Linked DNA regions of Homo sapiens. The protein of the gene in region 2 interacts with the protein of the main gene of each other region in a biochemical or structural test. Each region holds a gene or a part of one and is shown on either strand. Other genes may lie near its edges.

Evidence for each region. The genes of interacting proteins can lie anywhere in the genome.
Region 1: the proteins of PSMA5 (region 2) and XBP1 form a complex in vitro, tested with the Homo sapiens proteins (one study listed by IntAct).

Annotation. Positions count from the first base shown.
Region 1 is NC_000022.11:28,794,060-28,797,569, forward strand, and holds the end of XBP1 (X-box-binding protein 1), read right to left. Parts: intron 3,147-3,510; coding exon 3,018-3,146; intron 2,134-3,017; coding exon 2,095-2,133; coding exon of another isoform or gene 2,069-2,094; coding exon 1,988-2,068; intron 1,674-1,987; coding exon 1,116-1,673; 3' UTR 501-1,115; downstream 1-500. UniProt on the Homo sapiens protein: Functions as a transcription factor during endoplasmic reticulum (ER) stress by regulating the unfolded protein response (UPR).
Region 2 is NC_000001.11:109,415,616-109,421,123, reverse strand, and holds part of PSMA5 (proteasome subunit alpha type-5), read left to right. Parts: intron 1-5,508. UniProt on the Homo sapiens protein: Component of the 20S core proteasome complex involved in the proteolytic degradation of most intracellular proteins. This complex plays numerous essential roles within the cell by associating with different regulatory particles.

The sequences.
Region 1 (3,510 bases), on a different chromosome or scaffold from region 2:
CGTCTCTTTGAATCTTAACCTTTAGAGATACCATTATCCAACTTTACAGATGAGGAAATAAGTGATTATATATAACCCCTGGGTTACCCAGCTTACCAGTGGCAGAGTTGAAAATAGGGAGTTTCAGTCTAGAAAATGCTCTTAATTCCCATAATAAGGGCAAGAGAATCTCGATATGTGATGGTGTGTCCTTGTTTAACATTTATAAGATGGTGTAGCAAATAGTGGTTAGGGTTCTAGCTCTTCCACTTACTAGCTGTGATATTGGTCAGTTAGGCTCAAGAATCTGTCTCAGAAAGACAGTAACTGCTCAAATTATAGCTTATATCACTTATGGCAGTCCAGAATTAAAGCAGGCAGTAATTAAGGTGGAAAAGCCTTCAGTCACTTTAAAAAGCGTTAGGCTCACTTCAGTTGGATTAATTCCTACCACAGCACACAGATAAACATCTGGAGAGAAAACAAGACTTACGGCCCTAGAAGAAATCAAACAAGGATGCTGCATTGTACCTTTTAATTGCATGGGTAGTTTTAAATAAATGGAGAAAGCACCTTTCAGAAGCTACACTAGCAGGAAAAAATTCCATCAAGCATTTACATAGTAAATTTCTATAATTTCACAAAAGATTCTTGATCTTACTTGAAGTATACATGAGGGAAAGAGCCCCCTCAGCAGGTGTTCCCGTTGCTTACAGAAGCAAACTAAAGGACCTAAAACTGGAGGCAAGCCAGGATGCCAAAAAGGGGGAAGAGAAATGATAAAGAACCATTCATAAATTCCATGTCTACTTCAAGACATTTGTCTAATGACCCTTACATAATAAGTATTTTAGGGAAAACTACCACCCTTTTAAGATAAAAGTACAATCTTAAAAGCTGTAGTTCTCAATTATAGTAATATTTCTTACTTCCAGTAATATGTCTCAATACCTTGGACTGCTGGATGTCAAAAGACAATACCTGGGGGTCATCTATGAGATCTGAACAAATAGAGGAATTCTCTAGGACTGTATACTCTCTATTTTGGCTTTTTGAATGAAGTACAGACAGGCTTCTCTGCTATCCTCCAGGCAGTGTAATAGTCAAGGAAAAGGGCAACAGTATTGGATCATTCCTTAGACACTAATCAGCTGGGGAAAGAGTTCATTGGCAAAAGTGTCCTCCCAAGAATGGTTTACACCAAGCAGAGAGGACATGTCACTGAATGGGGAAAGGGAACCCCCGTATCCACAGTCACTGTAAGCATCCAGTAGGCAGGAAGATGGCTTTGGGCAGTGGCTGGATGAAAGCAGATTTGAGATACCCAGCTCCGGAACGAGGTCATCTTCTACAGGTTCTTCCTTCACTGAGACAATGAATTCAGGGTGATCATTCTCTGAGGGGCTGAGAGGTGCTTCCTCGATTTTCACTACCACATTAGCTTGGCTCTCTGTCTCAGAGGGTATCTCTAAGACTAGGGGCTTGGTATATATGTGGTCAAAACGAATTAGTTCATTAATGGCTTCCAGCTTGGCTGATGACGTCCCCACTGACAGAGAAAGGGAGGCTGGTAAGGAACTGGGTCCTTCTGGGTAGACCTCTGGGAGCTCCTCCAGGCTGGCAGGCTCTGGGGAAGGGCATTTGAAGAACATGACTGGGTCCAAGTTGTCCAGAATGCCCAACAGGATATCAGACTGTAAGAGGCAAAAATTAAATGAAGTACAACTGTCAGAATACAATGGAAAATCTAACTGGAACACTTTGTACTGGGTTCCATAATGTAAATTAGTCATTATGTGATAAGATGACCTCGGGACCCACCAGACCCATTTATCTACACTTCACTCCATGTTCTATATTACCTGGAACTAGGAAGGTAGTTGATGTTCACCTCCAACCCCACCAAAAACTAACTTCAACCCTCATCTGTCTAGTTAGGGATGTCAAGCATCAAACAGATGGAATTAACTGGTTATATAGCTCTTTAATAAGTCAGAATGATCCCTACCTCTGAATCTGAAGAGTCAATACCGCCAGAATCCATGGGGAGATGTTCTGGAGGGGTGACAACTGGGCCTGCACCTGCTGCAGAGGTGCACGTAGTCTGAGTGCTGCGGACTCAGCAGACCCGGCCACTGGCCTCACTTCATTCCCCTGGGAGGAAAGACCAAAGTGAATAAACAGCTTCAAGTGCCCAAGGAAATGCTTGCTAGACAGCTGTGATTCTCAACTTTAAAGAATTACTTTTCAAAAAGATTCTAGGGTTAAATTGCTATAGAACTTTATTATCTAACAACATTATTATTATTGAGAAGAGCAAGATAAGATATTTGCCAGTTCTGCTTGAATCTTTGCCTGGAGGAGGAAAAATGTTTCATTGTGCAGGAAATGTATAAGGAAGCCTTACCTCCCTTTTCTCATCTCTTGAGGACTTAAAAGTGGAAATAACAATGGTTAGGGAAAGATTTCAGCTGTAAAGAATGGTTTTCTAGTTTTCTTGAAATTTGTCCTGAACATTACCTTCACAGAGTAAAACTGTGCTACTGTCAATCTTAGACCATTTGATTGTTGTCACTGAATTTGCCATAATCTGTAGACTAAAACTCACATACCACCCTTCTCTTACCACAGAGGTATCACTATTACAAAGAATCCTTTCCCTACTCATTCATATTCATCAAAGAACTACTTTAATTTTAGTAGCGTTCAAAATCTGGTTTGAGTGGCTCTCTTACTTTGGTTCTCCTTAATGATTGCATGGTAATCTTGTTGGCTACTGCATTTGTTAGTACTTGTTCTTAGGGAGCCATGTAACTTGTTTTCATTATTAGATCTTAGTACTGTTCACTACACACTTAAAAAATGAGTGTCAAGTGCCTTTAGGGGAAGAACACTCTGCCTGCATGAAAATGTCTTAAAACTGAAGGAAAATTTCAAGAACGCTCTTGATCAGAAGTCCAGACTGTAAACATAATCGCTGGGTCATGTCACTTGGAACCAGTACTCACATGAGGCACCAAATAAAGGAGATGATTTACCTTGGCTTCCGCCTCCTCTTCAGCAACCAGGGCATCCATCCCCAAGCGCTGTCTTAACTCCTGGTTCTCAACTACAAGGCCATGAGTTTTCTCTCGTAAAAGCTGATTTTCTAGCAAAAGTTTTTGGTTCTGGAAGAAAGTTCATAAGAGGCTATTAAAACATCTAATTATTTCAGTTAAGAATCTACCTGATTCAGTATAATTGGTTTCCTTTCCTTCTTGAACTTTTGGAAAACTCTATGCTTGTGGTGTTCATAGTAGGTTTTAAAAAGCTAGGCCATAATTATGGAAAAGCAAGCTACTTAATAAGTGCCACTTCATGGGGTCAAGAATAACACACTGCTTCCAACTACTAATACTGACTTCAGCAAAGGGTGACTTGTGGCTTTAATGTAGATATAATTTTTTTTTTAAACTATCTTGGCCAGGCTCGGTGGCTCACACTTGTAATCCTAACACTTTGGGAGGCCAAGGCAGGTGGATCACCTGAGGT
Region 2 (5,508 bases):
CTTCTAACTCCTGGGCTCAAGCTTTCCTCCCACCTTAACCTCCCTAGCAGCTAGGGTACAGATGTGTGCACCATGCCTGGCTAATTTTTTTTTTTTTTTTTTTTTGGTAGAGATGTGGTCTTGCTATGTTGCCCAAGTTGGTCTCAAACTCCTGGGCTCAAGTGATCCTCCTGCCTCAGCCTCTCAAAGTGTTGGGATTTACAGGTGTGAGCCACCACACCTGGCGTGGACTGGATAATTCTTTGTTGTGGAGGGCCATCTTGTACATTTTAGCATGTTTATCAATTCCTGGGTACTACCCATTAGGTGCCAGTAGCACTCTTTCAGTTGTGACCATCAAAAATGTCTCCAGACTTTGCCAAATGTCTGGTGGGGACAAAAGGGCCCCCAATTGAGAATCACTCTTCTAGATAAAAAGTATATATGAATTCTGTCCTACTCTGTTCAGTTAGGGATTCAAGATCAGTATACTATACATAAAACAATTAGAGAACAACTAAGTGCTAAATTAAGTTTTCTGGCAATGGTTTCTGATTATATATTTGTTTGATTTTTAAGGTATACATGCATGTAGTTTCAGAGTTAGAAGGCAAAGTAGTTCTATAAACCTTGTAACAAAAATAGCAATTCTTGAGGCCTGCATCATCTAGGTTCAGCTTTTCAGAGGCAACACTTTAAATTGTTTCAGCTGGTAATGTTCTAGGACTGTACCTCCATATCTCTATAACACAGATGTATGGTTTTTTTTTATTAGGCATTATCCATGGACTTTTCATTATGAAAGATGAAGATTTCTGCCCTAACCCCACACCCCTACTCCCCACCACACACAATTGTCTTCTGAGGTGGGGATAGGGTGACCCTCTCCATATATATCATGAATATCATAATTTTGTAAGATCATTAGTCAATAGTTACATTAGTATAACTAAATGCTTTTCACAGCTGAGCCATTTTGCATTTTATAATTATTTTTCTGTTTCTGCACAACATTGTTTTTCTTGGAGTTAATAATTCTCTTTTTAAAAATATTTGCTTAATTTAGGATGATCAATAATGCATTCCAAAGTCTCTCCAGGTTACATGTATCCTCTCAAAACATTCAGGCAAATTAAGTGTCCTATTAAGGATTCCTTTTTTTTTTTTTTTTTGAGACAGAGTCTTGCTCTGTCACCCAGGCTAGAATGCAGTGGCGCATCTCAGGTCACTGCAGCCTCAACCTACCAGGCTCAAGTGATCCTCCCGCCTCAGCCCCCAAAGTAGCCGGGACTACAGCTATGCACAACCATGCGCGGCTTGTTTTTTTTTTTTTTTTTTTTTTTTTTGAGACGGAGTCTCACTCTCTCACCCAGGCTGGAGTGCAGTGGCGCTATCTCAGCCCACTGCAACCTCTGCCTCCCAGGTTCAAGCAATTCTCCTGCCTCAGCCTCCTGAATAGCTGGGATTACAGGCGCGTGCCACCACACCTAATTTTTGTATTTTTAGTAGAGATGGTGTTTCACCATATCGGTCAGGCTGGTCTCGAACTCCTGACCCTGTGATCCACCTGCCTCTGCCTCCCAGAGTGCTGGGATTACAGATGTGAGCCACCGCGCCTGGCCTAAGTTTTTGTATTTTTTGTAGAGACGGGGTTTCGCTGTGTTGCACAGGCTGGTCTCGAGCTCCTGAGCTCAAGTGATCCGCCCACCTAGGCCTCCCAAAGTGTTGGAATTACAGGTATGAGCCACAGTGCCCTATTAAGGATTCTTAATGAAATCTTGGAGCCTTCTAATCTGCTCCAGTCTGGACTGGTTGTTCTCTGGGCCTCCTGTGTACCTGTGGACTTCATTTTCTGTGAGATCATTCTAGGCATTCCCTTTAACTCCCTCTTGTGTAAGGCCCCATGTCATCTTTTTTGATTTATTTGCTCAATTTGGTAGAACCCATTTTCCAGTAGTATTGTAGAAACTATTTATTTATTTATTTATTTTGAGGTGGAGTTTTGCTCTTGTTGCCCAGGCTGGAGTGCAATGGCGTGATCTCGGCTCACTGCAACCTCCGCCTCCCGTGTTCAAGCGATTCTCCTGCCTCAGCCTCCTGAGTAGCTGGGATTACAGGCATGCGCCACCACGCTGGCTAATTTTGCATTTTTAGTAGAGACGGGGTTTGTCCATGTTGGTCAGGCTAGTCTTGAGCTCCTGACCTCAGGTGATCTGCCCGCCTCACCCTCCCAAATTGCTGGGATTATAGGCATGAGCCACCGTGTTTGGCCAGAAATAATTTTTAATTTTCAACTTCTTTTGTTTCTTTTCTTCTTATTAGCATCCCGTTCTTGTTTTATGGATGAAATGTCTTGTTTTTCTTCAACAATTTTCTAATTTTTCTTGAAAATTTTTTTCCTTGTGGACATTGTTGCTCATCCCTATAATCTCAGTACTTTGGGAGGCTGAGGGAGGAGAATCACTTGAGCCTAGGAGTTCAAGACTAGCCTGGGCAACATAGCCCGTGTCTAGAAAAAATTTAAAAAATTAGGCTGGGCAAGGCTCACACCTGTAATCCTAGCACTTTGGGACGCTGAGGCAGGAGGACTGCTTGAGTCTAGAAGTTCAAGACCAGCCTGAGCAACATAGTGAGACTTTGTCTTCACAAAAAATTTAAAAAATTAGTTGAGTGTAGTAGTGTACACCTGTAGTCTTAGCTATTTTGCAGGCTTAGGTGGGAAGATCTCGTGAGCCTGGGAGGTTGGGGCTCCATGAGACGTGATTGTGCCACTGCACTCCATCGTGGGCAACAGAGTGAGACCCTGTCTAAAATATTTTTTTTTCCTTTTGAACTGGTCAGATTGTTTAGAGCTATGTTTTTCAAACTGCAGGTCTAGACCTATTAGGAGATAATAAAATAAATTTAGTGGTCATGAGGAGCATTTCTTTTGAGACAGAATGTCACTCTGTCACCTAGACTGGAGTGCAGTGGTACGATCACAGCTCACTGCAGCCTCAACCTCCCAGGCTCAAGTGATCCTCCCACCTCAGCCCCCAGCTACAGGCACATGCCACCACACCCAGTTATTTTTTTTTATTTTTTGTGGAGGTAAAGTTTTGCCATGTTGCCCAGGCTGGTCTCAAACTCCTGGGCTCAAGTGATCTTCCTGCCTCAGCCTCCCAAAGTGTTGTGATTATAGGCATGAGCCACCACTCCTGGCCCACATTTCTTTTTTAAGTGAAACAGAGCAGTAGATATCAAAATGCCTTGCCCATAGTAGTGATGAGTGGTTTTTTTCCTGAAATTTTGTTTCTGTTATGTATTTATATTTATTTGTGGGTTTTAGTTATGAAATCAAATGTATTCCTTACTGTGGCTTTTGGTCAAAAAGTTTGAAAAACATTGCTCAGGAGAAAACTGCCTCTTCTCATTTCATTCCGGGAGGGTATTTCTGGCTGCTGGCTTCTGAGAGCTGAGTAGGGAAAGAAGGCTGAGGTTCTTAACATTTGGTTTGGAAATTTTTACATATTTATCCCGTTTTCAGTACATTATTCCTGCCTTAGACTGTGCTTGGTGTCCCCAATCCAAAGACGCTCTATTTTACGGTCTCCAGAGAATAAGCCTGGAGTCTTCCACGGGAGTGGGGGAGGTGCAGTCGTCTAGCTTTACAGCATAGGGGAGGGGATCCGGGAATCTGTTTCTTAAACATTGAACCACCTTGCAATTTTTAGCTCCTTGTTCATTTCCATTTCCAGAGGTCCTTGTTGCCACCATTTCCTTTTTTGAGGTCCTGTGATAAAAATCAGGTTGTTTCTTTACTTTCTTTACGGCTGGTTTAGGATTTGGATTACCCAGGTATCACTAACCTATCTTCTTTTTAGCTTCAAAGTTTTGTTGCTGTGTCTTCTCCCACTCTCTGTTATAGTGGATTTATGCCTTTTTAGAAGTCCTTTAATCTTACATCAATAGACTTAAGGAAGGCGTGGAACTAATGTTATGTCTTTAGTCTGCACCTTTAACTAGAAATATGAGCATTCATTTTTATTTATTTATTTTTTGAGATGGGGTCTCACTCTGTTGTCCAGGCTGGAATGCAATGGCGTGATCTTGGCTCACTACAACCTCTGCCTCCCGGGCTCAAGCAGTCCTACCGTTTCAGCCTTCCGCGTAGCTGGGAGTACAGGCATACGCCACCAAGCCTGGCTAATTATTGTATTTTTTATAGAAACAGGGTTTCACCATGTTGCCCAGGCTGGTCTTGAACTCCTGGACTCATGCAATCTGCCCACCTCAGCCTCCCAAAGTGCTGGGATTACAGGCATGAGCCACCATGCCCAACCTGAGTACTCATTTTTTTACATAAAATTTTTTGACAGTTCATCTCCTGTAGTTATGCAGGTATCCACTGATTAAGAAAATACATGACAAAAAGCTGGTGTACATTTAATAACACTTCTAAATAAAGTCACAACTCAACACATTTGAAAAATAATATATATGCGTGTGAAATGATCATTCAGTCTGCAGACATGTTAAGCAAGTTATACATAAAGATTCGTGGGATTCTTTGGAACTCTTTGCAGTGCTCACACTTGGCAGTGATTACTTTGTAGAAATAACTAAATATAATGGAATTCAAAGCAGAAAGCATAGTCATGGAAGGCTTTGATGAGTGGAATTTGGATTGGGGGAAGGAAGAATGTATTCCAGGGGAGACAGCATGAGCAGAGGGGTGCAAGGGTAGGAGATAACGTGGCTTGAGCCAGTGGGCTGGGCTATACCTGAGGGATTTTGTTGGAGAATAACGAGTAGTGAAGTTGGAAGGGAAAAGTGGCATCAGGATATGAAGGCTCTGGAAGTTTATTTGGATATATTATAGGCAGTATAGGGTGATGTTAATTCTTGAGAGAAGAAATATAATGATAATAGCATTTTATTAGATCAGTCAGGTTATAACATTAGAGATACATTGAGAGAGATTAAAGATGAGAGAGGCTATTGAAGTATCTAGGCATGGAATATGAATAACATTTGTTCATATTTGGCAGGCACCATTTTAAGCATTTTATAATATATAATGTGTTTACCCTTCTTATTATTATTGTCATCCTCATTTTGCAGGAAATGGGCATAGAGGAGTAGATGACTGGGAGTTACGTAGAGATAGAGATGAATTCCAGGTATATTGTGGACTTCTAGCGACCTTAAATAATTAATAGTTTTACGTTGTTGGTGGTGATGATGGTGGTGGTTCTTTTCGTCCCTCCCTACCTTCCTTTATTACTTTTTTGGAGGTCAGGTAGGTTGGGGAATATCATCACCTCTTGGGACAGACCAAGGTAGATGGCAGAGGTGAAAAGAGGCCAGGTCCAGAGAAGACATTAAGAGTTTTATTACTTTCTTGCCCACTATGTTTAGAACTTTTGAATCCTCCGTCCTCCAAATATTGGCATTAGAGAGTGGATTTTTCCAGTGTTTGAAAGACTTTGTTGAACTTACTCTTTTGGGGTTCTGGGAATTACATGGGTAAATTATAAAGAAAACATT